7 separate regions of the Homo sapiens genome follow, and regions 2, 3, 4, 5, 6 and 7 are each linked to region 1. Evidence: fine-mapped expression QTL. A gene starts in region 1. Each other region holds a variant in brackets. All regions are shown on one strand. Distances are from middle to middle. Region 1 holds the start of ADCY3 (adenylate cyclase 3). Region 2 overlaps CENPO (centromere protein O). Region 3 overlaps ADCY3 (adenylate cyclase 3). Region 4 overlaps ADCY3 (adenylate cyclase 3). Region 5 overlaps ADCY3 (adenylate cyclase 3). Region 6 overlaps ADCY3 (adenylate cyclase 3). Region 7 overlaps DNAJC27 (DnaJ heat shock protein family (Hsp40) member C27).

Evidence for each region. PIP is the estimated chance that this variant, and not a neighbour inherited with it, causes the effect. A credible set is the group of variants that fine-mapping cannot tell apart.
Region 2: its variant is the best candidate, but not a certain one, in a credible set for the expression of ADCY3 in blood mononuclear cells (TOPMed, PIP 0.69).
Region 3: its variant is the best candidate, but not a certain one, in a credible set for the expression of ADCY3 in whole blood (INTERVAL, PIP 0.75).
Region 4: its variant is the best candidate, but not a certain one, in a credible set for the expression of ADCY3 in monocytes (CEDAR, PIP 0.77).
Region 5: its variant is the best candidate, but not a certain one, in a credible set for the expression of ADCY3 in visceral fat (GTEx, PIP 0.53).
Region 6: its variant is the best candidate, but not a certain one, in a credible set for the expression of ADCY3 in spinal cord (GTEx, PIP 0.55).
Region 7: its variant is the best candidate, but not a certain one, in a credible set for the expression of ADCY3 in whole blood (INTERVAL, PIP 0.50).

Annotation. Positions count from the first base shown.
Region 1 is chr2:24,918,030-24,922,574 of GRCh38, forward strand. ADCY3 (adenylate cyclase 3) reads right to left here and starts at 2,208. Exons shown (of 22, transcript NM_004036.5): 1 at 1,654-2,208; 2 at 284-1,155. The coding sequence starts at 958. LOC124907742 (a long non-coding RNA gene) reads left to right here and starts at 2,315. Exons shown (of 2, transcript XR_007086246.1): 1 at 2,315-2,543; 2 at 2,969-3,429. RefSeq lists silencers at 1,593-2,322, 2,353-2,412, 2,453-2,662, 2,673-2,762.
Region 2 is chr2:24,810,145-24,814,144 of GRCh38, forward strand. All of the region lies in intron 3 of CENPO (centromere protein O), which reads left to right. Among named protein-coding and RNA genes, the nearest start is that of CENPO, 19 kb to the left of the region's middle. The variant C/G (reference allele first, on the strand shown) is at 2,366.
Region 3 is chr2:24,881,880-24,886,424 of GRCh38, forward strand. The region is part of intron 2 of ADCY3 (adenylate cyclase 3); the gene reads right to left. Among named protein-coding and RNA genes, the nearest start is that of ADCY3, 36 kb to the right of the region's middle. The variant G/A (reference allele first, on the strand shown) is at 2,460.
Region 4 is chr2:24,857,263-24,861,807 of GRCh38, forward strand. All of the region lies in intron 3 of ADCY3 (adenylate cyclase 3), which reads right to left. Among named protein-coding and RNA genes, the nearest start is that of ADCY3, 61 kb to the right of the region's middle. The variant T/C (reference allele first, on the strand shown) is at 2,142.
Region 5 is chr2:24,875,602-24,880,146 of GRCh38, forward strand. All of the region lies in intron 2 of ADCY3 (adenylate cyclase 3), which reads right to left. Among named protein-coding and RNA genes, the nearest start is that of ADCY3, 42 kb to the right of the region's middle. The variant C/G (reference allele first, on the strand shown) is at 1,697.
Region 6 is chr2:24,847,480-24,852,024 of GRCh38, forward strand. The region is part of intron 3 of ADCY3 (adenylate cyclase 3); the gene reads right to left. Among named protein-coding and RNA genes, the nearest start is that of CENPO, 56 kb to the left of the region's middle. The variant C/A (reference allele first, on the strand shown) is at 1,723.
Region 7 is chr2:24,956,587-24,961,131 of GRCh38, forward strand. DNAJC27 (DnaJ heat shock protein family (Hsp40) member C27) reads right to left here. Exons shown (of 7, transcript NM_016544.3): 4 at 1,224-1,388; 5 at 457-579. Among named protein-coding and RNA genes, the nearest start is that of DNAJC27, 13 kb to the right of the region's middle. RefSeq lists an enhancer at 771-1,725. The variant C/T (reference allele first, on the strand shown) is at 2,137.

The sequences.
Region 1 (4,545 bases):
CCCTGGGTGGGCCTTCCTGTCACACACTTAGACTGGGCACAGGTGAAGAGTGGCCCTGAGGCCCAATGCCCTGACATCCTCCTTTCCCTGGGGCCAAGCACAGGCAGACTCCGGGTAATGGCACAGGGGTGAAAAGGCAGGGACTAGGGAGAGAGGTGAGAGCCCCGGAGGCCCCCAGGACACATTTTGACTCAAAGGCAAAGCAAACAGCAACTCCAACAGGTCCCAAGTTGGTGAGAGCTGCAGGAGAGGACGCTGTGGGGGGACAGTGGGCAGGACTCACCTCCCGCAGCAGCTGCATCCCCTTGAGCTCCTCCTGCTGCTGCTGGGCCACGGTGACCCCCAGGACCAACGTGTGCACCACACAGGAGACCACGGAGATGATCACGATGGGGCTGAGGCTGAGGGGCAGCGTGATGAAGAAGGAGAAGACAAAGAAGACCTGCCAGCCCACCGTGTCACTAGCCGCGTGGGCACGCGCGAAGTTCAGGCCCAGGTAGGAGAAGATCTGGGCGGTTATGAGCAGCCACAGCACGTAGGGCAGCACTCTGCGGGTGACCCGGTCCGGGAGCAGCCCCTTTTTGCAGAGCACGAAGAGGATGATGTCCAACACCAGTCCAATTCCAGCCACGGCGAGGGAAGCCAGCTTGTCGCTGGAGAAGACCACAGCACACATGACCACCACGTAGCAGTCAAAGAGGGCTGCAAAGACCACCAGCACCAGCAGGGTCTCGTGGCGCTGCCTTTTGAAGTAGGTCTGGTAGAGGTTCTCCAAGGACTCCGGCACGAAAGTCAGCCGCATGAAGCGAGGCAGGCACAGGCAGGAGCCCGAGTTCCGGACCGAGATTTCATGGGTCCGGCCCACCCCGCGGTCAGGGTCGGAGGGCAGGCTGACGGAGTACTCGGCTGAGTACTCGGCCGAGTATTCGGGCTCGGAGAAGCCCTGGTTCCTCGGCATACTGGCTGGTGTCTGCTACTGGCCCTAGAGAAGTGGACTGGGAACGGAGGAAGAGCTCTGGACTGGGCCTCCTCTCAGGGCTCTCTGAGACCGGGGGAGGGCTGAGGGCCTCTTCTTGTCTGGGGCGGAGGGGAGGCCACCTCCAGCAGGAACGCAGAGCGGGTTTCCAGAGCACAGGTAGCACTGATCAGCTAGAACTGAAAAGGGCATTGCTGAGTAGAAGCACCTCTTCCCTCCTACCTTGCGGTTTCCCCATGACCCGCCCTAACCCTCATAAAAGGATCTCTGCTGCAAGAGCCTCCCAACCCAGGGCCTTCCCTGCCACCCCCGGCTCACACCACCGCCCACCGCAGGCACACTTAGTCCTGTCCACGCCAGACACTCAATTTCCTGTCCCTGGCTTGTGGAAGGGCCTAGCCGCCTTTCCATCCCTGGTAACCGGTTTCTCTCTGTCATCTCTTCTTTCTCAGTCCCCGACTTCCTCACCTAAATTCCCTCCAGGCCCAGTCCTTAGAAGCTGTAAATAAAATGTGCCGGAAAGAAATCAGGACCATCGTGGGGGATTCCTGAGCCTTCCTTCTGTTTACTTCCTTTTTCCACCAAACCCTTGGAGGCTCGGGCTCCGATCCGGCCCCCTTCCCACGCTCGGGGCGCTGTCTTCCCCCCCGGAAGCCTGGCCCTGCCCCTGCGTTTACCTGTGCGGGAACTCGGCCACCGCGTGCTCCGGGACGGTCCCCGCGCGGGCTGGGGCGGGAGAGCTCGGCGCGCCCGAGGGCTGCTCCCCGCAGAGCCGCGCCGCCCCGGCAGCGCCTCGGGGCCCGGCCGGAGCGCGATCTCCCGCCGTCAGGCCCGGGATCCGACCGGGAGAGGCGCAGGGCTGCCCCTCAGCATCCGCGGGCGCCCGGCCGCAGGGGGAAGGAGGAGGCGGCGACGAGGGCTGGGAGATCCGTGGGCGCCGGCCCAGCGCGCCCGCCCTGGGGCTGAGGCTCAGGGGCAGGGGCCGTGCGGGGGCCGGCAGGCGCGGGCGGCGGCGAGCGCGGCTCTCCGGACCCCTCCCCTGCACCCGCGGCGGCGGCGGCTGCTAGGGGCGCGCGCGGGGCCCTCCCCGGCGGGAGCGCGGGCCGAGCCCGGGGAAGCCCGCCAGCATCCTCTCGCCCGCCCGCGCCGAGCCGAGCCAGCCGAGTCCGGGCTCGGCGTGCTGCACAGCTATTCCCCGCGCGGCGCCGGCGGCTCCGGGGCCACGCGCGCTCCAGGCCCCGGGAGGCGGGAGGCGGGAGGCGGGAGGCGGGCGGGGCGGCCCCTCCCTCGCCCCAGTCTCCGCCCTCTCGGCGGCGCGTTCCGGAGTGGGGCGGCGAGGGAGGCGCCGGGCGGCGGTCCCAGGACCCGCGCGGGCGAGAGGTGGAGGGGCCCGGGCGGCCCCCGATCCGGCGCGGGCGGCGGGCTGGGGCGATGGCTGCGTGGAAGCGCGGGCGCGGGCGCGGGCGTGGGCGGTGGGCGGTGGGCGGCAGGGCTGGGGCGAATCCACCCCTTCCAGCGAGGAGGCCCGGTCTAGGAGGATGGAAGCCCGGGACGCGCCCGCCCGCAGGTGAGGCGCGCTCGGGGCACCCCGCCGCCCCCTCCTCCGCCGCGGCTTCCTTCCGGGCCGGCAGAGGCCAGGGCTCAGGTTTGGGGACCGCTCCGCCGCGGGGCACGTGGGGCCTAAGTATCCCCGCCCACCCCGGGAGCCCAGACTCCGGAGCGCCGGGCCTGAGCTTTCCGCAGAGGGGCTCGGCAGCGGAGCCCTGTCCTGCTCCCAGGAGGCGGGTGGCGGTGGCCCGGTGGGCACTACACACGTGGAACTGGAAGAGTTCCTGAGACCCTGCTTCGAAGAGATTTCCCGTGCACATTCTACCCGTTTGAGATGTGTTTGAGTTCACAAACTGTCCCTTAAAGATGCGAATGCTCCTTTGAATAGTTAAACCTATCAGTCTCTTACACCATAGTATAAATTATTTTCCTTGCATTTGACAGAACACCGTGCTAAGATCAACTACAGGCTTTGGGAATTTAAATAAAGGAAGAGGAAAGAGATAGAATGTTTTGGGACAAAAGGGACAAAAGCATGTGTGGGAAGGTAAGTGCTGAGGACAGCCAGCAGCAATAGGGGGTCATCTCCCCTGGGGAGAGCTGAAGGAATGAACAGAGGGGAGAGAAACTTGGCTATCCAGACCCTGGATGGAGCTGCCACCCCATGCCCCTGAGAGTTATCCGCGGGCACCCCTTCCAGAACCTCAGGCATCACCTTGCATCCCTCGGGGAATGGATCCATTAGAGAATCGATCCTGCCACTGCTGTTTCTACCGTTCCCTCACACTCTGTCTGAAAAGGCGCCACCTTCAGCCCATACTTCGCAGGGCTTTGATTCCAAAGGTAGGGGACCTAACATCAGATATAGGAGTTTGGTAATTTAAATAAAGCAAAACTTTGCCCCATTGTTTTATTTTATTTCTATTTTTTATTTTTTCGAGACTGAGTCTCACTCTGTCACCCAGGCTGGAGTGCAGTGTTGTGATCTCAGCTCACTGCAACCTCCACCACCCAGGTTCACGCAATTCTCCTGCCTCAGCCTCCTGAATACCTGGGATTGCAGGCACACACCACCAAGCCCGGGGTAATTTTTGTATTTTTAGTAGATGGGGTTTCACTATGTTGGCTAGGCTGGTCTTGAACTCCTGACCTCAAGTGATCCGCCCACCTCAGCCTCCCAAAGTGCTGGGATTACAGGGATGAGCCACTGCTCTGGGCTGCCCCATTGTTTTAATTTGCTGGAGGTTTTTGGGTTTTGGGGGGGATTTTTTTTGGAGGGAGTTATTTGTGGTTTGTTTTTTGTTTTTGTTTTTTAAAAAGGAAGGCATTTATTTATTTATTTATGAGACAGAGTCTCACTCTGTCGCCCAGGCTGGAGTGCAGTGGCCATCTCAGCTCACTGCAACCTCCGCCTCCTGGGTTCAAGCAGTTCTCCTGCCTCAGCCTCCCAAGTAGCTGGGATTATAGGCACCTGCCACCATGCCTGGCTAAATTTTGTATTTTTAGTAGAGACAGGGTTTCATCATGTTGGCCAGGTTGGTCTCGAACTCCTGACCTCAAGTGATCTGCCTGCCTCAGCCTCCCAAAGTGTTGGGAATACAGGTGTGAGCCATCATGCCTGGACTTTGCTGGAGGTTTAAACATTTATTTTGAATTGTCACATGATGTTAAAGAGGACATGACTTTTATGTTTTACAAAGGGAGATGTAATGTACGGCAAGGCGCAGTGGCTCATGCCTGTAATCCCAGCTCTTTGGGAGGCCGAGGCAGGCAGATCACTTGAGGTCAGGAGTTCGAGACCAGCCTGGCTGACATGGCAAAACCCTGTCTCTACCAAAAAATACAAAAATTAGCCGAGCGTGGTGGCGGGTGCCTGAAGTCCCAGCTGCTCAGGAGACTGAGGTGGGAGAATCGCCTGACCCTAGGAGGCAGAGGTTGCAGTGAGCCAAGATCGTACCACTGCACTCCAGCCTGGGCAACAGAATGAGACCCTATCTCAAAAAAAAGTGGGGGTTGGGGGA
Region 2 (4,000 bases), 110 kb before region 1:
AATTTTTCCCCTTTTATTCTATGTTTCTATATATATTGGGTGGCAACAAATTTAGGACTACTGTATCTTCCTGATTTAGTTGACTTTTTTTTATTATGAAATATTCCTTTTAATTTTAATTAAACTTCTTGCCTTAAAATCTATTTTGATATTGGCCGGGTGTGGTGGCTCACGCCTGTAATCCCAGCCGTTTGTGAGACTAGGGTGAGAGGATCTCTTGAGCCTAGGAGTTTGAGATCAGCCTGGGCAGCATAGTGAGAGCCCCTCATCTTTAAAACAAAATTAAAAATTAAAAAAAAGTTTACTTTGATGAATCCTAGTACAATAGTAACTTTTTTGGTTAACGTTTGCAGGTTAAGGTTTTTTTTTTTTTTTTTTTTGAGATGGAGTTTTGCTCTTGTCGCCCAGGCTGGAGTGCAATGGTGCCATCTTGGCTCACTGGAACCTCTGCCTCCCGGGTTCAAGCAATTCTCGTGCCTCAGCCTCCCAAGTAGCTGGGACTAGAGGTGCTCGCCACCATGCTCAGCTAATTTTTGTATTTTTAGTAGAGGTGGGGTTTCACCACGTTGGCCAGGCTGGTCTCGAACTCCTGACCTCAGGTGATCTGCCCACCTCGGCCTCCCACAGTGCTGGGATTACAGGTGTGAACCACCGCACCCGGCCTGCAGGGTAAGTTTTTTCTGTCTTTCTGCTTCCAATCTTTAAATGACCTTACGTTTAAGGTATTCTTCTTGTAAATAGCATAGAGCTAGATATTTTTAATCCATCTTGACAATTGTTGTCTATTGTTATTATTTATTATTGTTATTTTTTTTTTGAGACAGAGTCTCACTCTGTCGCCCAGGCTGGAGTGCAGTGGCGAGATCTCAGCTCACTGCAATTTCTGCCTCCTGGCTTCAAGTGATTCTCATGCCTCAGCGTCCCAAGTAGGTGGGATTACAGACGTGCACCACCACGCCTGGCTAATTTTTGTATTTTTAGTAGAGACAAGGGTTTCACCATGTTGGCCAGGCTGGTCTTGAACTCCTGGCCTCAAGTGATCTGCCGGTCCTGGCCTGCCAAAGTGCTGGGATTATAGGTGTGAGCCACTATGCCTGGCCAATGTTTGTCTTTTAATTGGAGTATTTAGTCCATGAACTTTTTTTTTTTTTTTTTGAGACGGAGCCTCGCTCTGTCACCCAGGCTGGAGTGCAGTGGCACTATCTCAGCTCACTGCAACCTCCGCCTCCTGATTCAAGCGATTCTCCTGCCTCAGCCTCCTGAGTAGCTGGGATTACAGATGCCCGCCACCACACCCAGCTAATTTTTTGTTTTTTGTTTTTTGTTTTTTTTTTTGAGACGGAGTCTCGCTCTGTCGCCCAGGCTGGAGTGCAGTGGTGCGGTCTCGGCTCACTGCAAGTTCCACCTCCTGGGTTCATGCCATTCTCCTGCCTCAGCCTCCCGAGTAGCTGGGACTACAGGCGCCCGCCACCACGCCCAGCTAGTTTTTTGTATTTTTAGTAGAGACGGGGTTTTACCACGTTAGCCAGGATGGTCTTGATCTCCTGACCTCGTGATCCACCTGCCTCGGCCTCCTAAAATGCTGGGATTACAGGCGTGAGCCACTGCGCCCGGCCAATTTTTTTGTATTTTTAGTAGAGACGGGGTTTCACCATGTTGGCCAGTCTGGTCTTGAACTCCTGACCTCATGATCTGCCCGCTTTGGCCTCCCAAAGTGCTGGAATTACAGGTGTGAGCCACCGCGCCTGGCAAGTCCATGAACTTTTAATGTGATTACTGATCTATTTGGATCTCAATCTACCATAGTATTTTATTGTCTTATTTGTCACGTATAGTCAACATTCCTTTAGTGTTAGACACATATTTACCCTTTTCAGTGCTCTTCATTTTCACATTTCCATCTGCGATTATTTTCTTTCAGTTAAGTAGCTCCTTTTGGTACTTCTTTTGGTATCGCTGGCAGTAAAATCTCCATATTTGTTTGACTGAAGACATCTTTATTTCACTATGTTTTTTATTTTTTAAGAGTATATTTGGTGAGTATATAATTAGATATTAGAATTTATTTTCTTTCAAACTTTATATCATTCTGTTGTCTTCTAGGGCCATAGTATCTTGTCAGGTGTGAAGTTTTGGCCTTATTAGTCAGGTGTTAATCTTATGTTTGTGAATATAATATGTCTTTTTCTTCGGGCTTAAGATTTTCTTTGTCTTTGGTTTTTAGCAATTTTAGATCAATGTGGCTAAGCATGATTTTTTTTTTTATCCTGTTTGGTGCTTGTAAAGCTTCTTTAATTGATGTTTTTCATCTGTTTTACAACATTGGCCAATATCTCTTTAAATAGTGCATCTTCTCAGTTTTTCT[C/G]TATTTCTGGGGCTCCCATGTATGGGTGTTTTTGTTTTTGTTTTCTGTGACCTATGTCTTAGTAATTTTCTAATCTTATTTTTTTCTCTGTACTTTAATCTGGATATGGAAAATATGCCTACTTTCCACTCCACGTAAGATCTTATTTGTCTAGTTGGCTTTTAAATCTATTAAAATTCTAATTTGAGTTACTGTATTTTTTTGGTTCTAAGATTTCCGTCTCATTCTTTTCTGTATAGATTCCAGCTCTTTGGTCTGGGTTTCCATCTTTTAGCCTGTTTTAATGGCCATGCCCCATTATTGAAATAGCTGAATCCCTTGGCATCTGTTCTGTTGTCTTCTTTTTCCTCTTGGCTTTCAGTCATCTGTTTCTCTTTCCTGGTATGCCTGTAGTTTTTTTTTTTTTTTTTTTTTTAATTCAATGATGAGTATTGTGTATGAAAAAATATACGGAGGTCAGGTGCTGTGGCTCACGCCTGTAATCCCAGCACTTTGGGAGGCCAAGGCGGGTGGATCATCTAACGTCAGGAGTTCAAGACCAGCCTGGCCAACATGGTGAAACCCTGTCTCTACTAAAAATACAAAAATTAGCGAGGCGTGGTGGCGCACACCTGTAATCCCAGCTACTCGGGAGGCTGAGGGAGGAGAATGGCTTGAACCCGGGAGGCGGAGGTTGCAGTGAGCCGAGATTGTGCCATTGCACTCCAGCCTGGGTAACAGCAAAACTCTGTCTGGAAAAAAGAAAGAAAGAAGGAAAAATATATGGGTTCTGAGTATGTTATCTTCCTCCAGAGGAAATTTTAGTGTTTTTCTGGCAAGTAGATCGTGTATGGGCACATCACCTTTATTCAGTTGAGGTGGTCTATTTCCGGTTTCCCTTACTCCTAGGGCTTAGCTTTTTTTAGGACCTTCAGTTGAAAGTTTGGGAGTGTGTTGGAGATGGGTCTATTAAGGCTCCTGTTCCCTGGCAGGCCCTGAAATCCACATTTTGTTCTAGCAAAATCTCTGCTTGGCTTTTTCCCCTTTAGCAGCTTCTTTCCGTTTGGTTTCTCAGTCCCCAGTCACACCTGTGCAGCTTAGGAATTAGCAAATGCCGGGAGGGAAGATTGCAAGCAGAACGTTGAGTTCCTGTTTCTATGGAATCTTGGCCCGTAGAAAGTCTGCTTTGATACCATTAATGTCCAGTGTTTGTTCCGGATGAGACTGCTGCGGAGTCTAGTTTATGCCTTTCTATGTGGCCCAGTGTGCCTTGCATATGAATAAGGAAATGCTCTGAGGCCAGAGGCTGCAGGGAAGCCAGCTCAGAGCATTTGTCAGTACTCTCCAATCCTGGCTATTTGGATCCTTCTGGAATGCCTTCAAACCATTTGCTCTCTTTGCTTGCTTGTTTCTTTTTGGTATTTTATCCAGCTTGCATAGTTGTTCTCAGAGGGCGGGTCAGCCTGGTACCTTCTGCTGGGCCATAGCTAGCAGCGTAAGCCTTGGAGCCCTGGCACTTGAAACCCCACACTGTCCAAGCACAACTTACCCAGCCTTGCCTCTTCACAGCCACCTGTTGTGTCCACCCTGTGCTTAGCCTAGACTTTCCACACAACCTTTTCTTGCTGCTCTCTCAGTCCTGTCCATTCCCATCAA
Region 3 (4,545 bases), 36 kb before region 1:
CCAGGGATGCTGCTGAACATCCTACACTGCACAGGGCAGCCCCCACCACAAAGAACCATCCAGCCCCAAATGTCAACGGAGCCAACGTCAAGAAACCCTGGCCTGGAACAACGCCTTCTTCCTTTTTGATTCCTGAGTGTTCACAATGAACTTTTTCTTGACCTTTTCTACCAGAGAATAATGAACTCTGAAGCAATGGTGTGAACAAGTAGATTTATTTTTATGTCAATTGTAGAGTTTGTGGGCTAAGAGGAGAATGCTCCTGATACTTACTGAACATAAAGACACAACAGCCTGATCAATGCACCCACCCAGAAGGCCCACGTTTCAGGGGTGTAGATGGTCAAAACCAGAGAAGGCCATCTGGTCAACCTCCCCATTTCCATGCAAGAATGGACAGCTCAAATGTAGCATCTTATCCTAACCCAGGGATTACTCACTTGGACTAGGCTTTGGAGGAGTTGGTGAGCCCTTAAAGTAGGGCAGAAATCACACTTGGCCCGTCTCTGGGAAGCAAGTCCATTGCTCTTGTCAGATTCTCCTAAGGATCTGTTACTCCAGATGACTGAGAACCACAAAACTCCTCAAAAGCTCCCACTGCTCTTGCTGCTTCACTAGACACACAAACATCTGCTCACAGCATTTCCTGTCTTCTCTTATTGATGTGACCTCATTATTTAGTCACCTTGGTCTCTTTCTCTAGGCCAAATAATTCCAATTCTATTTAAAGAAGTCCGTTTTAAAGCCGAATCATGTTTGGTCTCATGTCTTTTTACAAAGTGGTCAGTTCAACTCTATTGAATACTCTGGTGAGTGGCGGACCCCATACTGGGCCCTGGAGATTATAAAATTACCTCAAGGAGCTGACTCTACTGGCAGTAAAGAAGCTAGCAGTGGCCGGGCACCGTGGCTCATGCCTGTAATTCCAGCACTTTGGGAGGCCGAGGCGGGTGGATCGCCTGAGGTCAGGAGTTCGAGACCAGCCTGGGCAACTTGGTGAAACCCCGTCTCTACTAAAAATACAAAAATTAGCTGGGTATATGGTGGCACATGCCTGTAGTCCCAAGTTATTTGGGAGGCTGAGGCACAAGAACTGCTTGAGCCCGGGAGGCAGAGGTTGCAGTGAGCCGAGATCACACCACTGCACTCCAGCCTGGATGATGGAGTGAGACCCTGTCTCAAAAAAAGGGCCAGGCGCGGTGGCTCAAGCCTGTAATCCCAACACTTTGGGAGGCAGAGGCGGGCAGATCACGAGGTCAGGAGTTCAAGACTAGCCTGGCCAATATAGTGAAACCCCGTCTCTACTAAAAATATAAAAATTAGCTGGGCATGGTGGCGGGCACCTGTAGTCCCAGCTACTTGGGAAGCTGAGGCAGAAGAATCGCTTGAACCCGGGAGTCGGAGGTTGCAGTGAGCTGAGATCTCACCACTGCCCTCCAGCCTGGGCGACACAGAGAGACTCTGTCTCAAAAAAAATAAAAAAAAGAAGCTAGCAGTGAACAGAGGATGTGCAGCTCGATTCTGAGGGAGAGGGGAGAAGTCAGCAAAGGCCCCCATGAGGAAGGAAAGCTTGGGCTGGCCACACTCAGTTGGAGTTTTCACATGTTCTGAAAACACAGAGCTTTCACATATATTTAAGCATATAGATTCTGGACGATAAAGAAAATTGAAACCAATTTCTAACTGACGGCCAATACTAAGTGAGGCAGGAATGAAAGGGCTCCATGCTTTTGCTCATGCTTTCTTACCTATAAGCAACACTGGGTACATTTATCACACAGATCACCTGACTTTCTGAAACTAACTTTAGATGAACTTGAAAGCAAATGTACCAGCTCGGAGGAAGACAAGTGTATAATCTGGAGACAGAAGATATTTAGGAATCCAGATAGATCATCACACAAACTTAAAATGTAAAAACTTGAAGGGAACAGATCACTGATGACACAGAAACACCAAGCCCTTATTCTCTTGTGTTTGTGGCCATGGAACACAGCAAACTCTTTGGATTCCAAAACTTCCTACCTTTCAATTCAGAAAATGACATTTTGAGAGTAAAACTTTTTGCACACCGTCTGCAACAAAAACCCACATCATCTGCTCTCCTGAATCACAGCTTTCTCCTGGGGATTTGATACATCTTTTTTCTCCCCTTTAGTCCTTCTAGGGGTTTCTCAGCAATTCCCTCTTCCCTACAGCCTCTCACAGCCTTCCCAGGGACATTCAGCATTTTTTTTTTCCAGTCACTGGTTCTGATGCAACCCTTCTGGCGTTGTTCCTGAGTTGCTGTTTTTCCAGTTCAGTGTTTCTGGGCCAGGTGCACCAGCGTCCCAAAGGGAGCTGGTTAAAATGGGAGATTCCAGGGTCCTAGCCCACAGAATCCCCGGCATCTGCATCTGTGCCCTCCTCCAGGTGATTCTCTTCTACAGAATCACTGTTCAAGGTGGAGTAGTAGATAT[G/A]AAAACAAGGCAAAGAGCTTCCAGCCTTCCTGGGTCTTTAAACCAAACTCTCATGCTGCTGCCTTAGGCCATCTTCCTATGCCTATCCCCTATTTTTCTTCTATGCATTTATTGTCTTTATTTTCTAATAATCTTTTTTTTTTTTTTTTTTTTTTGAGACGGAGTCTCACTCTGTCACCCAGGCTGAAGTGCAGTGGTGCAATCTCAGCTCACTGCAACCTCCGCCTCCCAGGTTCAAGCGATTCTTCTGCCTCAGCCTCCCGAGTATCTGGGATTTACAGGTGCCCGCCACCACGCCCGGCTAATTTTTGTATTTTTAGTAGAGACAGGGTTTTGCCACGTTGGCCTGGCTGGTCTTGAACTCCTGACCTCAAGTGATCTGCCCGCCTTGGCCTCCCAAAGTGCTGGGATTACAGGTGTGAGCCACAGCGCCCAGCCCTCATTTTCTAACAGTCTTCTGATCCCTGGTTCACCCTCACCCTGAGTTAGGTACCCTTTTACCATCTTTTTTCCCTTCTGACCAGCATGTCTCCCACACATTCAAAGCTCCACCCACGGCGGTGCTTTCCACCTGTTGATGCTGCTTCATGTCTCCTGCGTTTAATTCAGTTCCCTGGTTTTCAATTCAGATTTAAAGTCCTTTCCAATTTTCCTTCTTCTTGTCCTGAGAGACTCTGGTCTGGAAGGACCATGGCAGGTCATGGACCAGGCCTCTCAATGCACTCTCTTAGTCACATGACAGAGACTTCCAAATTCCAAAATTCAAGTTCAAGGCCCTGGTGAACTATCACCTCTCCTAAATTCCAGTTCCTCAGCCTCCACTGTCTTGATGAGCACCACCTGCAGGTGCTCACTTCACCCTCACTCAGCAGATCCCAACTTTGGCTGTGCCTTAGAATCACCTGGGGAGTTATGCCCAGGCAGAGTCCACAAAAGTGGAACCAGAGGCCCAGACACTGGTATTGCTGAAAAGTTTCCAGGAGACCTTATGGCGGGACCAGGAGTGGAAAACGCTAAAGTCAATGTGAACACCCAAGCTTGTCATGGTCTCCCCTAACCAGCCCTGATCCACAGGTCTCACTTCTGCCAACACTACGCCCCAGCTAGGAACACAGCACCCAACACGGCGCAGGTCCTCAGTAACATTGGCTGAACGCCTGAACCAGCGCCAGCCTGCTCTCTCTCACTGAGCTCCTTTCTGTGCCTCCAGCAGGTCCTTCATCCCAGCTGGTCTTTCCAGGTAAAAGCCTCTGGGTCTCCTTTTTCCTCACTCTTGCTGCCACCACCTGGCTCACACCCTTACTTCCCACAGGGCTGGGGACAGACTCATCTCCCTGGTCCTGCCAATCCACCCTGGAACACATTAATCTTCCAAAATAATATTTTTGCAAGTACCACCTTCTGCTCAAAACACCTCAATAGCTGCCAATTGTCCAAGAGTTCAAAATCTTCATTCTGGCATTCAGGGTCCTATATACTCTGGGCTTTACCATGAACTTGAATCTAAACCCCGCCCCCACAGCTGCCTGAGGTAAACCATCTGCTTTAGCCAAGCTGACGTCCTCAGCATGTCACCAACTGGCCTCCTGACCTCGGCACATGCTGTAGCCCCTATTTTGAGAGCTCTTAAACTTCCCCACGAAAGTGCCTGGGGAGGAAGCTTCTCATTTTACTTGCTAATATATGTGGATTCTGCATTCTGTTCAATAAAATCCATGTTTGTATTTGTATTTTTAAGTGTTTAAAAATATTTGCCAAACAGATGTCTCCACCTGTTTCAGTGTAAGTGCCACTAGGGCAGGGACGACATCTGTCCCAGTCCCCACTGTGTTCCCAGCACTCAGTAGCACCCAGCACGCTGTCTGCTGGGTGAAGGAATGAATACATGGAGGACACAGGATGAAAGGAAATGCCAACTCCACGGTCATCCTGTGGCTTCACATGCGCCAAAGCAAACACAACCCTGCACCCCCAATGTGGGAAGCACGCACTTAGAATGCCCCTCCCCACCTGGCCGCCTTCCGCCTCCCCCTCGAAATCTAGCTGAACCCCGCCTCCTCCATCGAGCCCACCTGAGCCTCCTTGC
Region 4 (4,545 bases), 61 kb before region 1:
CCCACTGGGCCCAAAGATGGCCACGTGTGTGGTACCTGGAGCCCTCACCACGAATTATTTGGCAAAGAGCAGGTACTACTCCTTAGAGGTTTGAAGAGTTAACGAGCTGTCAACTAGGAGACCTGGCCCAAGGGGCAAGCCACCATCCTCTAGAACAGCGCTAATAGAACTTCCTGCAATCACAGAAATGTTCTGTATCTTTGCTGTCCAATATGGCAGCCACATTTAGCTACTGAGCACATGAAATGTGGCTAGTGCTACTGAAAGACTAACATTTTCTAATTAATTAAGTTTAATTTAAATAGCTACATATGACAAGTGGCTACCATACTGCTACCTATTGCAGCTCTAGAACACTGTAGTCACAAGTACTGTGCCAACTCTGATGGGCAGAGAGCAGCTGCCTCGAGCCCTGTGTTGAGAAGGATGCGGAGGGTTCGTATCTGTGACTGGCGGAAAGCAGACCCTTTGCATTCTCTCCTTGACCCAGATGCAGCAACTCAGTACCACCCTGGGCATAAAGGCCCAAGAAAATTATACCGACAAAATTTCCACCTTTACCCACGGCACTCCCTAAGCTCCGTCCTCTGCTTTCTCTCCACAGCCCTTCCCAGCTCCTGACATAGCACATACTCGTCTGTTTAATGTGTGTTGCCCACACTAGAATCTGTTCTGCTCACAACTGTATCCCCAGTGCCTAGAAAAGTCCTGAAATACTTGTGGTCTGAATTTTTTTTTTTTTTTTTTTTTTTTAAAGAGACAGGGTCCCGCTGTCTCCCAGGCTGGAGTGCTGAAGTGTAGTCACAGCTCACTGCACACTGATCTTGCTGGGCTCAGGTGATCCTCCCGCCTCAGCCTCCCAAGTAGCTGGGACTACAGGTGCGCACCACCACCATGCCTGGATTTTTTTTAAGTTTTTTTGTAGAGATAAGGTCTTGCCATGTCTGGTGTTGGACTCCTGGGCTCAAGAGGGGCTCAGTGACCCAGTTAGAATGTGAATGCAAGTCTTACTTGCAACCTTTGTTGACAGATCTTTCCATTTTCTAAGTGAGTCAAAAATCCAGGTTTTTATCCAGAATGTACAAATGTTTAAGTATTAGAAAATGTTAACACTCTGGGAAGGTCAAACAAAACAGATACCCACAGGCCAGCTGTGGTCCAAGGACTACCTAACTGATTCTTCCTGTTAATTAACAGATCTCCCAAATAGAGCCAGGAGGAAGTGCCAGCTGGTAAATGAGAGATCTCATTATTAAATGAAATAATCCAATGAAAACACCATCCAGGGCCTGGCACAAAATAAATGTTCAATAAAACTACACTCATTACTAACAAAACTTCATTCTTACAGCCAGATAAATATAAAATGCGCCACAACCCTGGCCACAATGCACAATTCTACAATTCTACAACTCTACAGTTCTCCAGCAATTCTACAACTGTTTGGAGAAAAATTCTGCTGGAGGATGTGGCAAAGGCTTAAGACCTGCCACAGCCCAGCAGAGCCCAGCTCAGAGGCCACACAGCCCATGCATGGGCCGTCAGCAGGACTGTCCTCACCAGCTCTGCTCAGGTCCACCCTGACACAGCCAACATCCTCCCACTGCCACCAGGAACCCACCACTGCTTTAGGACAACCTGTTTTCTATGGGTTCATCATCTGCATTATCTGAAATGTGGATTTGTTTTGCTAAGTCCTGGAATGTTGAAATGAAGAGCATTCTGTGACATCCAAGAGGTGAGAGTTGGAACCAACAGAAGGACCAGTGCCTACTTCGCATTATGGGGAACGCACCTGGCTTTTCTCACACTGAGAGGCATTCGAGGCTAAAAGAAAAACTAAAAATATTAGATATCTTTGTGGGTGGTTCTGTGAAGAAGATAGCGAGTACAATGCAAGGCTGATGCTGGGGGTGGGGACGTGTCTGTGTGTCTCCTGTGAAGCAGACAATGGATTTGACCCATTACATTAGACGCGGAGAATGCCATGATGCAGCCACGGTGCAACGAGCAAGACGCAGAGCAGCTATGGATCCACAGGCAGAGGCACAGCCCTCCCACTCGACACCAGCTTCGTCTCCTCTTCCCACTCTTAGTGGTCCCCCTGCCCCGACCTCACTGTTGCCAGGATAACAGTGGCA[T/C]GGTGGGGCTTGGCACTAGAAGCCCAACCCCAGGCCAAGAGGCAACTGGCCTCTGGCTCTGACTCCCCTCTCCCCTACCAAGCGCCTATAAGAACAGGGCTCAGGGTTGATGACACCTTGTCCTAATAGCAAAAGGTCTTGGGGGAAACAGTGACCAGGCTTGGGCAAAGGTTACAGAGGAAGAACATTCAGAAAAGCAAGAGATACAATCCAAGCTTAGGAAATGGCAGCCTCCCAGTGTCCCAAGCTCCGGGGCTCCCAGGAGAGGGGCCTGACGCTTGTGGTCAATGGGCGGTTCTTCCCTGTAAGACCGGCATGAAGGAAAAACACCATCCCTAGTAACAGGTGACCCTGCACGTGGGTTAAAGCAGAAGGAGAGGTGGGGAGAGGCAGCTGTGTCTCTGTGCAGTCCCCCAAGACCTGAATGGAAACCCACCCAGCGTCCACCTCAGCTGTCTCCCCAGGATCCCAAGGGTGAAGATGGGGATGGCTTTCTACCCTAGACCCTGTGCAGTCTGCCCTGGGCTCTCCCTCTACGTGCCCTGGCTGCAGCATCCTCCTGTCTGAGGGTGGGCACTGTGGACAGTCCTCACCTCCGAGGGAGGACCAGGCACAGGGCCAGTTAACCACACAGGACGCGTGTGAAGGAAGCATAGGCCTGCCCCTGTCATCCCTCCATCTTCCCACATCCTCCGTCAACCATGTTCCGATCCCTGGGAAGTGATTCTGAGTATGATTCAGAGAGGCTCAGTTTTGTAGCTCCACCTGGCAGCAGGTGTGTGCTGAGTGGGTTTTCTGGGTGCCGCCTGTTGCCAGGTGGCGGCTGGGGTGCTTAGCAACCCTCAAGGTCCCCAACTAACCCCTGAAGTGTGGTCACATGGGAATAAAGACAAACAACTCCAGTTCTGTCCTCTGGGCCTCCTGCTCTACCCTCACATGCCCACAGAGCCGGGAGGCTGGACCAAGGTCAGCATGCACCCTGGCGGCCCCGCACCACAGGGAAGCGCCATGGCACTGCCTGCGAAGCCAGATATGTGTTCGGCAGAGGCAAAGAGGACGCTTCGCATGCCAGGGCTGCACCAAGAGCTCCAAATCCACAAGGCCTCAGGGCAGGGCAGGCTCCACTACCTCCCTGAAGGAGACTGGAGCCAGGGAGGTTAAAGCAGCAAAGCCACTGGAATCTGAGACCCTTGCCATTACCCAAATGCTCTGTTGCCTCAATGCACCCTTTGACATGTGGACATGCTCACCCCAGTGAGGAGGCAGAAAGGGATGCCTGTGCTTGAGGGACTGTGCCGCCTCACCCTCCTGGACCATGGCTGGCTGCCCACCCATCTGGGAGTTGACTGTCATTAGGAGGCTGGTCATCTTCATAACAGAAGGTACAACTTCCCAGGGGATGGCAAGAGAGAGAGCGGGCTCAGGTCACCAGCGCATCCCTACACCTCACTTCACAGCAGAGGAGGAAGCTGAGGCCCAGCGAGGAGACACCTGCTGGGACAGCCACATGGCCAGGGCTGCCCTTCAGCCGCACACTCTTAAGGCAGCTTAGAAAACAAGATAAATAGCCGAGCATGGGGCTCACGACTGCAATCCCAGCACTTTGGGAGGCCAAGGCAGGCAGATCACTTGAGATCAGGAGTTTGAGACCAGCTTGGCCAACATGGTGAAACCCCGTCTGTACTAGAAATACAAAAATTAGCTGTGTGTGGTGGTGGGCACCTGTAGTCCCAGCTACACGGGAGGCTCAGGCAGGAGAATCGCTTGAACCTGGGAGGTGGAGGTTGTAGTGAGCCAAGATCGTGCCACTGCACTCCAGCCTGGGCGAAAGAGTGAGACTCCATCTCAAAAAAAAAAAAAAAAAAAGATAAGAGCACCTGACCAAATAAAAAGTGAGACATGGACCCTGGGCACTCAATTCTGGAAGGAGGCCCCTTTTTTGCAGAGGGTAGATTAACGATTGTTTTTATAGGAGACACTCATAATTTTTTTAAATGGAGAATTTTCTTAAAAAAGACATTAAGCACACATGTAAGTAAGGGATGGCCTGCTCTGACACTGACCTCAAATGGCTCTTTGGAGCCACTTCCAAACCAGGTTCTGTTTCCTCTCATACCAGGACTGTCTGCGGCCCTTTCCAAAGTGTTTTTCCATCTATTATCTCATTTTTATTCTCATGAGGAGCTTTTACAGGAGGAAAGTGAAACGGGGTCATGCAGCCTCTAGTACCGGCCTGCACTCAGCTCCGAAGACCCGTCAGCTGATGTTTCTGAAACGTCAAATCAGCCCAGAGCCCACGCCACTCCCAACGTCAGCCCCAATGCCTTGGGAGGGAGTGACCTCTGTCCTGGCTGGAAGAGAGAAGGGGAAGGATGCACAGGCCCCAGCCAGCTCCCATCCTACC
Region 5 (4,545 bases), 42 kb before region 1:
CAGCGACGGGAGGCGAGGGTGGCAGCAGTGCTCCCAGGCAACACTGACGTGCAGCCTGGGTGGGGAGTCCCCCTCCCGGCCTCAGTTTCCTCACCTGTATCCTCACCTCAGCATCACAACATTAAGTCCTAGACACAAGCACGCACTTTATCAGCCTCATCTCCTCTAACTTTACAACCAGTGCTGAGGCAGGTGATGTCACTCTGGTTTTACAGAAGGAATTGAGATTAAATTAAACAAGGTGTTAAAACTAGAGGGTGAGATCTCCTCCAGCATTCAAATCTCATTATTCTATGGTTCAAAACCCCTCCCTAAAGCACTCCTCAACTTATTTACATATTTCACAACCCCATCTTTTCCCAGAAAGGAGTGTGGACTTCTTTTTGGGAGGGGGGCGGTGGTGCAGATAGAGACAGGGTCTCACTCTGTTGCCCAGGCTGCACTGCAGTGGCACATTCAGGGCTCACCACAGCCTCAAACTCCTGAGCTCAAGCGAACCTCCCACCTCAGCCTCTTGAGTAGCTGGGATGACAGGTGCACATCACTTGTCCCAGCTAATTTTATTCTTTGTAGAGATGGGGTCTTGCTATATTGCCCAGGCTAGTCTTGAACTCCTGGGCTCAGGTGATCCTCCTGCCTCAGTTGCCCAAAACAATGGGACTACAGGCATGAGCCACCATACCTGGCCTAGAGATTTTTAAAACTGAAATTTAGATAGTCACGAAGATACTAGCCCTATAGCACTTAGGTGTGAGCTGCACGCATTTTAAATCTGAAACAATACTTGCAGATTTTCCACAGCCTCCATACACAGTGGTGGCCATTATCATTTCCACAGCTTCCATACACAGTGGTGGCCATTATCTCTAAGCTAATAAGATTCAGAAATTTCCTGTTTCATATTCATAAATGTGTATCTCACTTAGCAAAATGAATGTGCCCCTCAAAATATGTCTGTAAAAAGTAAGTTTCACTCTTTCAGCATGAGCAGGGCCCTGAGCTGGCCCTAGGAGGGACGGTGGCGTGACATCGTCCCTGTCCCCAGGGCCAGGCAGGTGTGGCCGCAGGAAGAACTTGATGCTGGGTAAGCAGGGCAGCTGCCGTTCCTCTAAAATGCATCCATCAGGATCGCCTCTCATTACAGGTGAAGAACTGAAGACCCAGGAAAAAATTCTGCCTCTGGGGAAAACTTGAACCCTAGCGAGAATCTGAAATAGGTCTTTCACGTCACCATGACACATGGGTTTCTCTGCACCAGGCCTTGAGCTCTGCTGATCTGGGATTAATTTTCCGGTGTTCCCACTCCAAGGTACGAGTGAGAAGTGACCTTCCTTTTTAGAACTCTTCTCCCTCCAGGGTGGCCCTTCCCCACACCCACCACTTTGCAAACCCCTCATCCCATTCTACCCAACCTGGCCCACTTGGCAGGCTCCTGTCCACCTGGGAGCCCTGCAGAGACCTCCCATCTGCTCCATCACTTGTACTGCTGCACCCAAGGCAGCCCCTCCTCCTCCCCCATGTCCCCCACACATGGCCCTGCCACTGTGTGCGGGAAGGTGGGCACTGTCCTCACATCTGTGTCCTCAGCCCATCCTGGCCCCATCCAGCCCTAGGTGCCCAGGAAGCCTCACGCTGTTGGGTGGCACAGATGTGGGTTACGACTCTACACTCACAGACTCACCACCCACCCCTCCCC[C/G]CTTCAGCCTCTGGTCAGCAGGCGAGCTGAGCAGAAGCCATCAGTAAACATGACCTTCTGGCCCTAGATCCTTCCTGGGACCCAGCTTTGCTGCTTCTAGCCTTCCAGTGAGCATCCCCTACCTACCCCAGTCCACCCCCGCCTGAAGAACAAAGAGGAACAAGGCTCGGTCGCTCCCCTGAGGACAGCGGACAGGGTACATTTTGGGAGTGATCTAGAACATCAGACAGAGCAGACCAACAGGCAGGAGGAGAGGTGTGAACAGTTGGGGAGATCACATCCAATCAGGGTGATGCTGAGGATGGCTTCACGAAGACGTGAGCATTAAAGAAAGATGGGGGTCTCTCTGAAACACGAAGACGAGCTCAGACACCACACTGGGTGAGTGGCACACAGGAGACTCCTCCCTCTCTGGAATCATGAAGAGCAACTTATTCCCAGGGCTCCCGCTCAAAGTGTTCTGCACACACACAGGCACCATCTGACCACCAGACAGAGAGGGAAGAGGCTCCTTGGCCTGGGGCGAGACAGCTGGCGCTCGAAGCCTTACTTCTGGGCCCAAGGGCAACAGCTGTACCTGGGAGCTGACTGCACTGCCCAGTCCCGGGTCCTGGGGTGACTCACCAAACCCATGAGGTTGAGAAGCCTGCTCTGGACACCACCAAAGTCACCTCTTCTTGCCCCGTGGTCCCCTTTAGACTGCACAGCACGATCAGGCTCTGTGGTGACAGAGGTCCACAGCCCCTGGGGTCTCTATTTATAGATCTTTTTACAAGTTTCTTAATCCTAAAGTTTTCCTGGAAATAACTTATTTCAAAAGAATTGTTCTGCTTTTTTAAAATATACAACATTTTTAGAATAATAAAATGCATCTCCCAAATGGATAAACACTTGGACTAAAGTGTCATCTAACCCATGACAGCCTGATAAAGTGTTTCTAATATCCCGGCTCAGAACGCAACCATGAGAACATTCCTTTACAAAATCCTCCCTCCTGGAAGTTTACGCATCGCAAGATCCTTCACGTTTGCTAACAACCCGTAGGGAAATGGGGCTGCTCTAAGTGGGACTGTCGAGTGGAAGTCACCCCACTGGAGGCGGTTTGGTGGCTCTCTTGCCCAAACCAATCTCTTCCTATAAGCTCATTCCAGCCTGAAGGTTCCAGAACACTCTGGAACTGTGGAGAAGAAGCTGAGCAAGAGAAAGCTGCTCAGGGTGCAGTGTCCGTGTCGCCCACAGAGACCTATGACGTTCTGCGGCTGGAGGCCAGCCGCACGGGAAACTCGTCATTAAAACTTACTCAGATGCTTTAGGAAAAAGTCTCCTAGCAGCCATGGGGCAGGAAGGAGGAGGGGAGGTGGCCCCTCCAAAGGCAACCAGCCTTCTCCCACCCAAGGAGGCCCAGCCAGAGCCTGTGAGGCCGCCACTCAGCACAGATGGGTCCCACTTCTGGGGCCACTCTCGCTGCAGACGCCTGTAGAGGCTGCTGCAGTGGCTCCTTAAGTCCCTATGAAATGTCCCTACCCCTCAGAGGCCTTCCCTGCCCACCCCTACTCATTCTCCAGTCCTGCTTTGAGGCCCAGCACAGAATGTTCTGCACTTGCCCTTCTCTGTCCTCACTCCTTCGCCTCGTCGCCTGGAAAGCAAACTCCATGCAGCCGGGACACGGGTTGTTTCCCTGCTGGCTCCCCAGCACCCGGGACTGGCACATAGAAAGCCATAGGCAACAACTGGCAGATGGAGGGGCGGGAAGAGGTCAGGCCTCGCAGTCACATAGACCTGCACACGGCTGCCCGCAGGCTGTGTGCCCTGGAGCAAGTCGCCTGCCTCTCTGACATGGCTCCTCACCCTTGCAGTAACCCCACAGGCTGTTCCAGTAAGACTGAAAGACTGGGCCGGGCGCGGTGGCTCATGCCTGTAATCCCAGCACTTTGGGAGGCCGATGTGGGCAGATCACAAGGTCAGGAAATCGAGACCATCCTGGCTAACATGGTGAAATCCCGTCTCTACTAAAAAAAAATGCAAAAAGTTAGCCAGGCGTGGTGGGCAGGAGGCTGAGGCAGGAGAACGGCATGAACCCGGGAGGCGGAGCTTGCAGTGAGCCGAGATTGCGCCACTGCACTGCAGCCTGGGCGACAGAGCGAGACTCTGTCTCAAAAAAAAAAAAAAAAAAAAAAAAGACTGAAAGACTGCACATACCTCACACAGGGCTTGGCACAAAATACCCCTTTCATGACTTTTTCTTTGCTTCCATTGAAGGCAAATTAGTAACTAATAATAACACTTTGAGGACGTTTTACAAGAATCTTCATGTTCATCATTCTATTTGTTTCTCACAACAAGAGGAGGCAGGGCAGAGTTTTCTTATTCTCATTTTGCAAGAGACTTAAAGTCAGAGAAATAAGCTTCCGAGCCCCTAGTCTCCCAGCAGCGCTGAGACCGGAACCCAGACCCCCTTACCCCGGGGCCAGGGCTCCCCTCCCTCAATACGATCACCTTAGCTGAACTGTGATGGGTGTCTGCCAAGGCGGGGCTACAGCCGCGGCACAGGGGGCTCCCCAAGAGCTAAGGATCCAGTTAGGACCTGGAACATCTGGGCAGGTGGGAAGGAGGAGTCATAAGGTCTGCAGACAGTGAGTGACTCTCCCATGCTGCCTTGGGCAAATTCTAAGCATCGCTGCACCAAGAGAGACTCTGAGATCTCCAATAAATGCAACCTTAATCAATACAACACGAGGCTCAAGCCTGGGGTGCTGCTGCCATGCCCTTCCGAGCTGGGTATCTGCCAAGTTTCCACCATGTGCCTCAAAACAAAGGGGCCTCCAGAAGCTTTCTGCTTATAACTTGTG
Region 6 (4,545 bases), 71 kb before region 1:
AGGCAAAGTAATCCCAGTACGCCCTGCCCTGGCTCCACCGAAGCCTGGGAAGTGGCATCCAGTTCTCCCAGGGCCCTGCAGCCCAGGGATAGCAACTTAGGCAGCCTTGGTGCTTGGCAACTCCCCTCTCTCTGCCAGTCAAGTGTGGTGAGAGGATGCCCAATGCAAAGAAATGGGTGAAGTGCTGGGTGGGACAGGACCCGTCTCGGAACCTAACTAACCAGACATTGTGGAAAAAGCTCTGGGTTTGCAGAAAAGATGAGCCTCTAGGAAGGTTTTCAAGAAAAGCCAGAGATGGGGCCCCACCAGCTCTTGAGGGCAGCCTCTCAAGGCAGACAGCTGCTGGGAGTCCTGAGGGGCAGGCAGAGCTGAGGAGTCTGGAGGAGGCAGGTGGGAGGCAGCACCCACTGGGCTGGGGCTGGGTTTCTCTGGTCAGTAATCCCGGGGATCCCAGCCCGCACTGGAGTGTGCGGCCCTGGTGTGCTTGAGGCTCGCGGGGCAGGAGGAGGCAGCCGTCAGGATCATGAGTGCTGGCCTGGCTCAGCCCCCAGCCCTGCCTGCACTCACTGTGGCTATAAGGTGTTGGGAACAAGCCCCCCAAAATCTGGCCATAAACTGGCCCCAAAACTGGCCATAAACAAAATCTCTGCAGCACTGTGACATGTTCATGATGGCCATAACGCCCATGCTGGAAGGTTGTGGGTTTACAGAAATGAGGACAAGGAACACCTGGCCTGCCCAGGGTGGAAAACCCCTTAACGGCATTCTTAAGCCACAAACAATAGCATGAGCAATCTGTGCCTTAAGGACATGCTCCTGCTGCAGTTAACTAGCCCAACCTATTCCTTTAATTCGGCCCATCCCTTCGTTTCCCATAACGGATACTTTTAGTTAATTTAATATCTATAGAAACAATGCTAATGACTGGTTTGCTGTTAATAAATATGTGGGTAAATCTCTGTTCGGGGCTCTCAGCTCTGAAGGCTGTGAGACCCCTGATTTCCCACTTCACACCTCTATATTTCTGTGTGCGTGTCTTTAATTTCTCTAGCACCACTGGGTTAGGGTCTCCCCAGCCGAGCTGGTCTCGGCATAAGGCAGGATACTAAACCTCCCTGTGCCTTGGTTTCCTAGGCAGGAAAGCAGGAAGGACACAATTCATTGCCGGCAAGCACTTAGAACAGTGCCTGGCCCACAGGAAGCGCTCACCATAGTCCAGCTTTTCCTACAGTCACATGATAGAAAGTATGACTGAGTGACTGAGGGTGTGGAGACAGCAGGTGGCTCAAAAAGACAGGGCTTAATGTTCCTCTGGGCTTTGAAGTTGGCCAGAAGTTTTTAGGTTGAGTTCCAGTGAGATGTGCCAGGGTCAGCACAAACCCTCTGGGTCACTCAGCCTGGTCTCCTGAGCTCTGCTTACTGCAGGTGGGACAACAAAGGGATACAAGGAAGGGCCCTGCCTTCCATTTGAGTCTCAGCCCCCCCCGCCACGTGTGCATTCAGGGTGCTGCTTGGGTGAGGAGGGCGCAGATGTGTGAGGAGCATGGGGAGGCGTGGTCAGGTGTGTGGGCAGGGAGGGACGTGGAACGTGAGGTTTAAGAACGTCACAGCACCGTGCTGGCCTCCCTCCCAGCCTACATGCAGTGGCTCCTGCAGCCACAGCCCACACAGGCCTTTCCTGCCCTCCTGGGTCTACCTCAGAGTTCTGTCCCTTCAGAAAAG[C/A]CTCTTCAGGCTCTCTTGGAACCTTGGGGACCTGAGAGTCCAATCCAGTCCTGTGGGAGCTCCATGCCCCTGACCACAGTACTGGTTCTCCCTCCAGACACTGCTGAGCCTCCTCCCGGTATGGCTGGGGTCTCGGAGACTGTCTACCAATACAGAACAAAAGTAGCGGCAGAGGCACAAAACCAGGGCAGCCCTGGAGCCCAAAACAGGAGCCTCGGAAGGGCCACATGAGTGAAGCGGCCGTGAGCTTCTCTCTGGGGGTGGGACAGGGGGAATTTCCATTTTTTTCCCTTATATATTTCCATAACCTTTGCTAAGAGCACAAATATGTTCTGAAAGCAGAAAATCAAACTTAAATAACAAGAAAGGAGCTATGCTTATAAATTCAGGCTGCCAATTCCCTGTGTGGTTTGTGGAAACCTTATAGTCAGGCTCAAAAAGTGAAGCAGGCCAACAGTCTACCTGGAGTCATTCTGGTAACAAGACGAGTTTTAAACAAGACGTCAGTGCGTGCAGAAGAAAGGACACACGGAACCTGACAGAGGGGAAAGGAGGAGGGGGGTCTGGGAGACGAAGGCCCACGGAGGGAGGGGCCCTCCCCCTGCCACCCCCCAAGCCTCAGGGCCTCTGGCAACCGCCTCTGAATGTGTCTCCCAGGTGCCGGCCGGCTCCTCTCATTCAGTCCACCTTTGGCACGGTATCTGGATGTCCTCTAAGCTGTGCGACACCATTGCCCAGCACCCTCAGTGGTGGCACTGACCTGTCTTTCTAGTCCTGTCCCCCACTGCTCTCCTTGTGGCCCCTTAGGGTAGATGAGCTGGACTGTTTCCTCTTCTCGGTACCCCTCCCTGTCCTCTGCTTCTGGTGTCACTCTCTGTGGAACATTCCTCCCTCCCCACACCTTCGACACCCACCTCACATGTCACCTCTCCAGAGAGCCCCTGGCCCCTGCCCAGGGGTGTCTGTTCCTCCCTCCTCACTAACACCCACTTTGTTGGTGCCTCTCGATTGGTGCTGGCCTTGTTTGCCCTTAGAGTTCAGAGGTTCTAAACCCTTTCCTGGATCCTGGCCCCTTTCATGAGTGCGTGATGCTAGCTACGGACCTTCTAGAAAAATGCTCATACACACACAGAAGATCCCTGATTACCATTCCAGAGCCCTGGCTAAAGACTCCGACACCCCTTCATTTGTGTTCCTGGGGGAAGGAAGGAGGCTGGGATCCAGGTGAACTGGCAAATGGGTCCCACAGTGGGGGACAGGAGTGCAGGGGAGAGAGGCCACCCATAGCAGCCTAGGATTGCTCAGGGCCCCAGGGATGATCAATGTGGCTTGGTCTCCCCAGCGTGGAAGCAGAGCCTGCTCTTCCAAAGATAGCAGTTGCTATACGTTTCAAGAGTCACAAGAATGTTCCAAACCTTTGACCCATTAATAGCTCTTCTGAGAATTTATCCCCCCAAATCCAACAGAAGTAAAAAGATATACGTAGAAGGTGATCTGCATTGCAACTTGACTTAACCCTTGTGGAAAAAACTGTAAGTCGCCCAAATACCCAGCAAATGGCTAATTAAAATGACACATCCTCTGGATGGAAGATTCTACAACCTTAAGAATGACCATAATGAAACAACAGTATTGTTTATCATTGCAATAAAGTACAGAGAGAGAAGAGCGGGACAAAATTGTGTTCTGTGAAGCTGACGCTGGGATCTATGTGTGCATAGAAATAAAGGCAGAAGGCTATATGCAAAGAGAAAAGGCTCATTTAACTTGGACGACCGAATTAGGGAAAACCTGAAACGTTTTTCAAAGTTGCTATAGGGTGCTGGTGGTTGTTCTTTTTAAAAATACTTTTTAAACTGGAAATAAACATGGAACTTCCTGTTGCCTCCAGCTGTGATCCTATCCCTGACCTCGGCTTCTCTGGAAGGACCACAGTTTTCTTAGAAAGGGAACATCCCTCAAGGCCTTTGGGCTTGGCTCCAGACTTCCTAGTCAGCTTGGACATAACCTGAGGAGGGGGAACCTATGGCCAGGCACGAACCAAGGAGACACACAGCCAAAATGGGGGTGGGGGAAGGCAGTGGTCCTCCTAGGAAGCCAAAGACAGAACGGTCACCCTGGGCTGGCTTCGCTCTGTAGCTCTCATGAACCCAGCACCCACCAGGTGACAGACACCATCCACCCAGTCAAAATCATCCCTCTCCTTTGCTAAAACTTCTGCATCAACCCGGTATTATTTATGTGCAATATTGTCTCAAGTTTGCAGGTGACAAAGCCTAGGCACAGAGAGATGAAGTTGTCTGTTACACATCCCAAAGGGTTAGCGGTAGACCCTGAACCCAGGGCTCTGAGACCCCTGGAATGGGTGAGTTTTTGTGCTTTTCCCACCCCAGTTCTCTCATCTGCTTTAATGTTGTTCTGCTACAGATGTGAAGGTCCCCCCAGTGCCCAGGGGCATCGGTTAAAACCTTTCCAAAAGTCCCATAGACTGTTCTTTTAAATAAACATAGAAATGGATCCTTCTGCTCTTAAGGCTTAAAACTTCTACTTATCTGAGTTCCTTCCTCAGCAAAGGACCTTCAGGCCTCTCAAATGAAGTACTGAATAACTGAAACTCACCAACCAGGTCACCACATCCAGACAATGAGACTCAGGACCCCTCATTCCTATTGTCTCGCGCGTTGTTCCATTTCTTCCCTGCCGTGTAAACCCCGGATTTAGCAGGTCAGAGAGATGGATTGGAGACTGAGTCCCCATATCCTCTACCGCAGCACCCGATTAAAGCCGTATTCCTTGGCAATAATTGCTGTCACAGTGATTGGC
Region 7 (4,545 bases), 39 kb after region 1:
ATCTGATTATGCATATAAATGTAATACCATTAGCCAAAGGTAGCTTTGAAGAAAATCTCTGTCCTGCTTAAGCAGTGTATAATAACTTTTGTTAAACTTGATGATCTTCAGAATCGCCTGGAGAGAGAGCTTTTTCAAAATATAGATTCCTGGGCTCCATCGCAACATAAGCTTCCAGTAGGTCTGAAGCCTAGAAGTATGTATTTTAAGAATTTCCTCAGGTAATTCTGGTGATCAGCTAAGTCTCATCTAAAATAGACAGCAGTCAGATCACTCATTCTCATTCTCTCTTCCTTTCTCTCCCCCTTTCTCTATTTCTATCTCACTAGATTCTTTGAAAAGAAAGAGCTTATTCTAATGAGAAATTCCTATTACTTTTTTGCTTCCTATAATTTAAACTGAAAATTGGCACAGTGGCCTTGACACAAACCTTAAAACAACAAAATGCTAGCTTACCTGGAACATCTCATTAATGCCTTCTCCAGTTTGTGCTGAAGTTTCAAAGTACAGGAACCCTTTGCTTTCAGCCCAAAGACGTCCTTCACTTTCATCTACACAGCGATGTTTGGTACAATCAATCTGAAATAGAAGGGGCGGGGGACAGAGAGAAGATTACAATCTTGTCCTACTAGAATGGACCCAGTGAGGGTCTCTGTCAATCCTTTACTAAGGCAAAGCTATTCTTAGTAAATGCCTGCACTAGTGTGTAAAATTACCAGGACCAAAGGGACAGAAACAAAACTTAATATTGAATGTAGACTGATATTCTATGGCAACAGGACTAGTGCCTGCTGCTGCAATGTCCCACCTGATCCCTTGGGAAAACAGCTGTTACTCAGTTCTGTGAAAGTTGGCTTCATGACATCTGCCATACCCTTGGGGCCATAGTCTGCTTTTCACACCTTTCCATAGTCCACATCACCTAATTAATGCCCCTACTCCAGTCGGGTCAGAGTCTGATTATTAGGAACCATTGCTCCCACTCAGTCACCAACATCCTTCCCCATGTATGGCACCAGAAAAAAAAAAATGTATACAAATTTTGATATAGCAGGTTTTAGGCTGCTGTGTTGTTTTGTTTTTGTCTTAGGGACATTATGTTTTGAAAGGTTATTGATTTCCATATTACACAATAAGGAATTTTTCTTTTCTTTTTGTTTCCCAACACTCAAAGCTCCACTCTTTCCCTAGAAATCTGAACACACCATTTCCAGAGGGGTTACCTTGTTGGCACAAACTACAAATATAATATTTTCCATGTTTCCATGAGGTCCAAGCTCTTGCTTCATTTCTGCCAGCCACGCATCAAGGGCGTCAAAGGAGTCTTTCTGCCCAACATCATAGACCAGTATCACACCCTGTGTGTCCTTGTAAAACTCATTTCGAACCTTCAAATAAAAGGACAGATACACAAAACGTAGTTTTTGTGATGTTATAAGAATGTATCTCACAGTCATTAACCTGGCAAAGTGTGTTCTTTTGTGTATTCTTAGTGTTTGCTATTGTATCTGTTTCTACTGGTCATTAGAGGGTTTTTTATAGAATCAAAGTAATGTCATTCTAAAAATGTATTAGCATAGAAGGACTTACAATGGAAAACAACAGCCTCCTGCCCCACCCCGTCCCACCTCCAGTTCCACTCCCTAGAGGCAATCAGTCTTTAATTATAGTAGACCTTAAAAGAACATCAATTATATAAAGTTCTTCTTAGGAAGAATTAGGAAGGTGAGTGAGCAATTCAAAAGAACTTAAGGCCAAAATGACATAAGTGTCAGCAATGGGTACAGCCATTTATAAATCACATCCCAAAGCTGGCTTCCCCCAGGGTGCTAGGCAGAGCTTCCCTGACTCTCGGGTCTGCACACCAACTTTAGAACTCCAAACTCAGAGCCTCAGTGTGATACAATGGAAAAGAGCACAGGCTCTGGAGTCAGACAGATCTGGGTTCACACTTACTTACTAGTTTTGTGATCTTGGGCAAGTCACTTAACCTCTCTGCGTCTCAGTTTCCTCATCTGTAAAATGGGGATAATACTACTTACTTCACAGGGTTATTATGATGGTTAAATGAGATAATGCAGGCAAAGTACTTAGCATGGTGCCTGAAAAACAATGTCTATTTAACACCTTCCCCTT[C/T]CTTCCTTGCATTCATTCTCTGGGCTTCATTCCAAATGTGGGAAGAGGCAGCATGAAATATGGGCATACTCAAACATTAGGGCCAGAGAGAAGTTAAGGAGCAGCATTGACACATGGGGTTTCCGGGACAAAGTTCCAGAAAGAATCCTGACAGAGCCCATATATTATATGTTCTTTTCACAAAATTCCCAAATGTACTCAGACCCACACAAGCTATGTAGTAAGAAATGAAAACATGTTATACACATCGGGTAGGGTTTCTGGGCATAGGCAGATATCTGGACCAAGGATATTAAGTGCTCCTATTTGTTTACAGAAACCTAAGAAGCTATCCCCTAAAGTTAAAACCAACAAAATCAGAAAGAACTGAAGATGATGAAGCCCACCAGTCCTTTCCCTCAGTACTCATGGTCCTTGGCCCTTCTACAGCAGTTAACGACGGGCTCTCTCTTCTTTTCTAAAACTCTCACTGCCTTGGCTCCCATACATCACATTCCCTAGGCTCTTAAATTCTCTTTCACCAACTCCCCTTCTCTCTATTGCTCCCACTCCAGCTTACCACCAAAATCCCCCAAATCCTGTCCTATGCCTTCTTCCTTTCGTTTTGAATCCTTCCTCCCAAATCAGCAACATCAACCACTTGTACAGTTTCAACTGTGAGAATCTCCAAGATGAGCCCTCTCCTCTGAGGTTCCAGACCTGCATTTCTAATTAGCACAACATTCTTCCAGCTGAATGTCCTGTTGGAATCTCAAATTCAATATGCACACAGGAAACCCCTCAACTTCTTCCTTCTTAAACTATTCTCCAAAGTTCCAACTTTCTCAAATGATGTTAAAAGTTTCTGATCAGTCCTCCACCAACCTTCCCAGTCTTATCCTCCCACTAGCTCCTGACCTTCAAACTGGGGAATCTCTCATTCCCCAAACTTGCCCAAGCCTTCCTAACTCCATCTGGAAACAGATACCTCTTTATCTTTAATTGTTCAAGCCCTGGCTATAATGCTGTATCTTTCATGCAGCTTTCTCTGTTCCATTCCTCACCATCCAGCCCCCTACTCCTGCAAAACAGAATGTAATCTCTATGTCCCCTGGAGTACCATACTGTTTTGTACTTTCATAGTGCCATCACTTCCTGCCCAGTTTTACAGTTAGTAGCATATCCAGCTGTCTTCCCTCCTACACTAGAAGAAATGTGAAGACATGCATCATCTTCATGTATCCTCCCTTGTGTCACCCACAGGGCCTAGCAGATGCAGGCACACCTCACTTTATTGCACCTATGTAAGGCACATAGGCACACCTCACTTTATTGCACAGTATGTACATATTGTGTTTTTTTACAAAGTGAAGATCTGTGGCAACCCTAAGTCAAGCAAGTCTATTGATGCCATTTTTCCACAGTGTGTGTTCACTTTATGTGTGTGTCACATTTTGGTAACACTTATAATACTTCAAACTTTTCATCATTATTATGTCTGTTACGATCATCTGTGATCAGTGATATCTGTTACTATTTTAAGTGTTTTGGGATACCATGAACATATAAGGTCATTTAAGACAGCAAACTTAATAAATGTTGTCTATATTCTGACTGTTCCACCAAATGGCTGTTGCCCCATCTCTCTCCCACTCCTGGAGCCTTCCTCTTCCCTGAGACAAAACAATATTGAAAGTAGGCCAATTAATAACAATACAACGGCCTCTAAGTGTTCAAGTAAAAGGAAGAGTCATGTATCTCTCATTTTAAATCAAAACCTTTAAATGATTAAGCTTAGTGAGGAAGGCATTTCAAAAACAGATAGGCCAAAAGCTGGGCCTTTTGTACCAAACAGCTAGCCAAGTTATGAATGCAAAGGAAAACTTCTTGAATGAAATTAAAAATGCTAATCTAGTGAACACATGAATGCTAAGAAAGTGAGACAGCATATTGCTGATATGGAGAAAGCGTTAGTGGTCTGGATAGAAGTCCAAACCAGCCACAACCTTCTCTTAAGCCAAAACCTAATGCACAGCAAGTCTCTAACTCTCTTCATTTCCATGAAGGCTGAGAGAGATGAGGAAGCTGCAGAGGAAAAGTCAGAAGCTAGCAGTTGTTGGTTCATGAGGTTTAGGGAAAGAAGCCATCTTCGTAACATAAAAGGGCAACATGAAGCAGCACATGCTGATGTAGTGCTGCAAGTTATTCAAAATATCTAGCTAAGATCATTGATGAAGGTGGCTAATCAAAGCAACAGATTTTCAATGCAGATGAAACAGGCTTGGAATAGATAGATCTAATGGAAGAAGATGATATCTAGGACTTTCAAGGCTAGAGAGGAAAAGTCGATGCCTGGCTTCAAAAGCTTCAAAGGACAGGCTGACTCTCTTGTTACGGGCTGACAGAGCTGTTACGGGCTATATGAGCTGA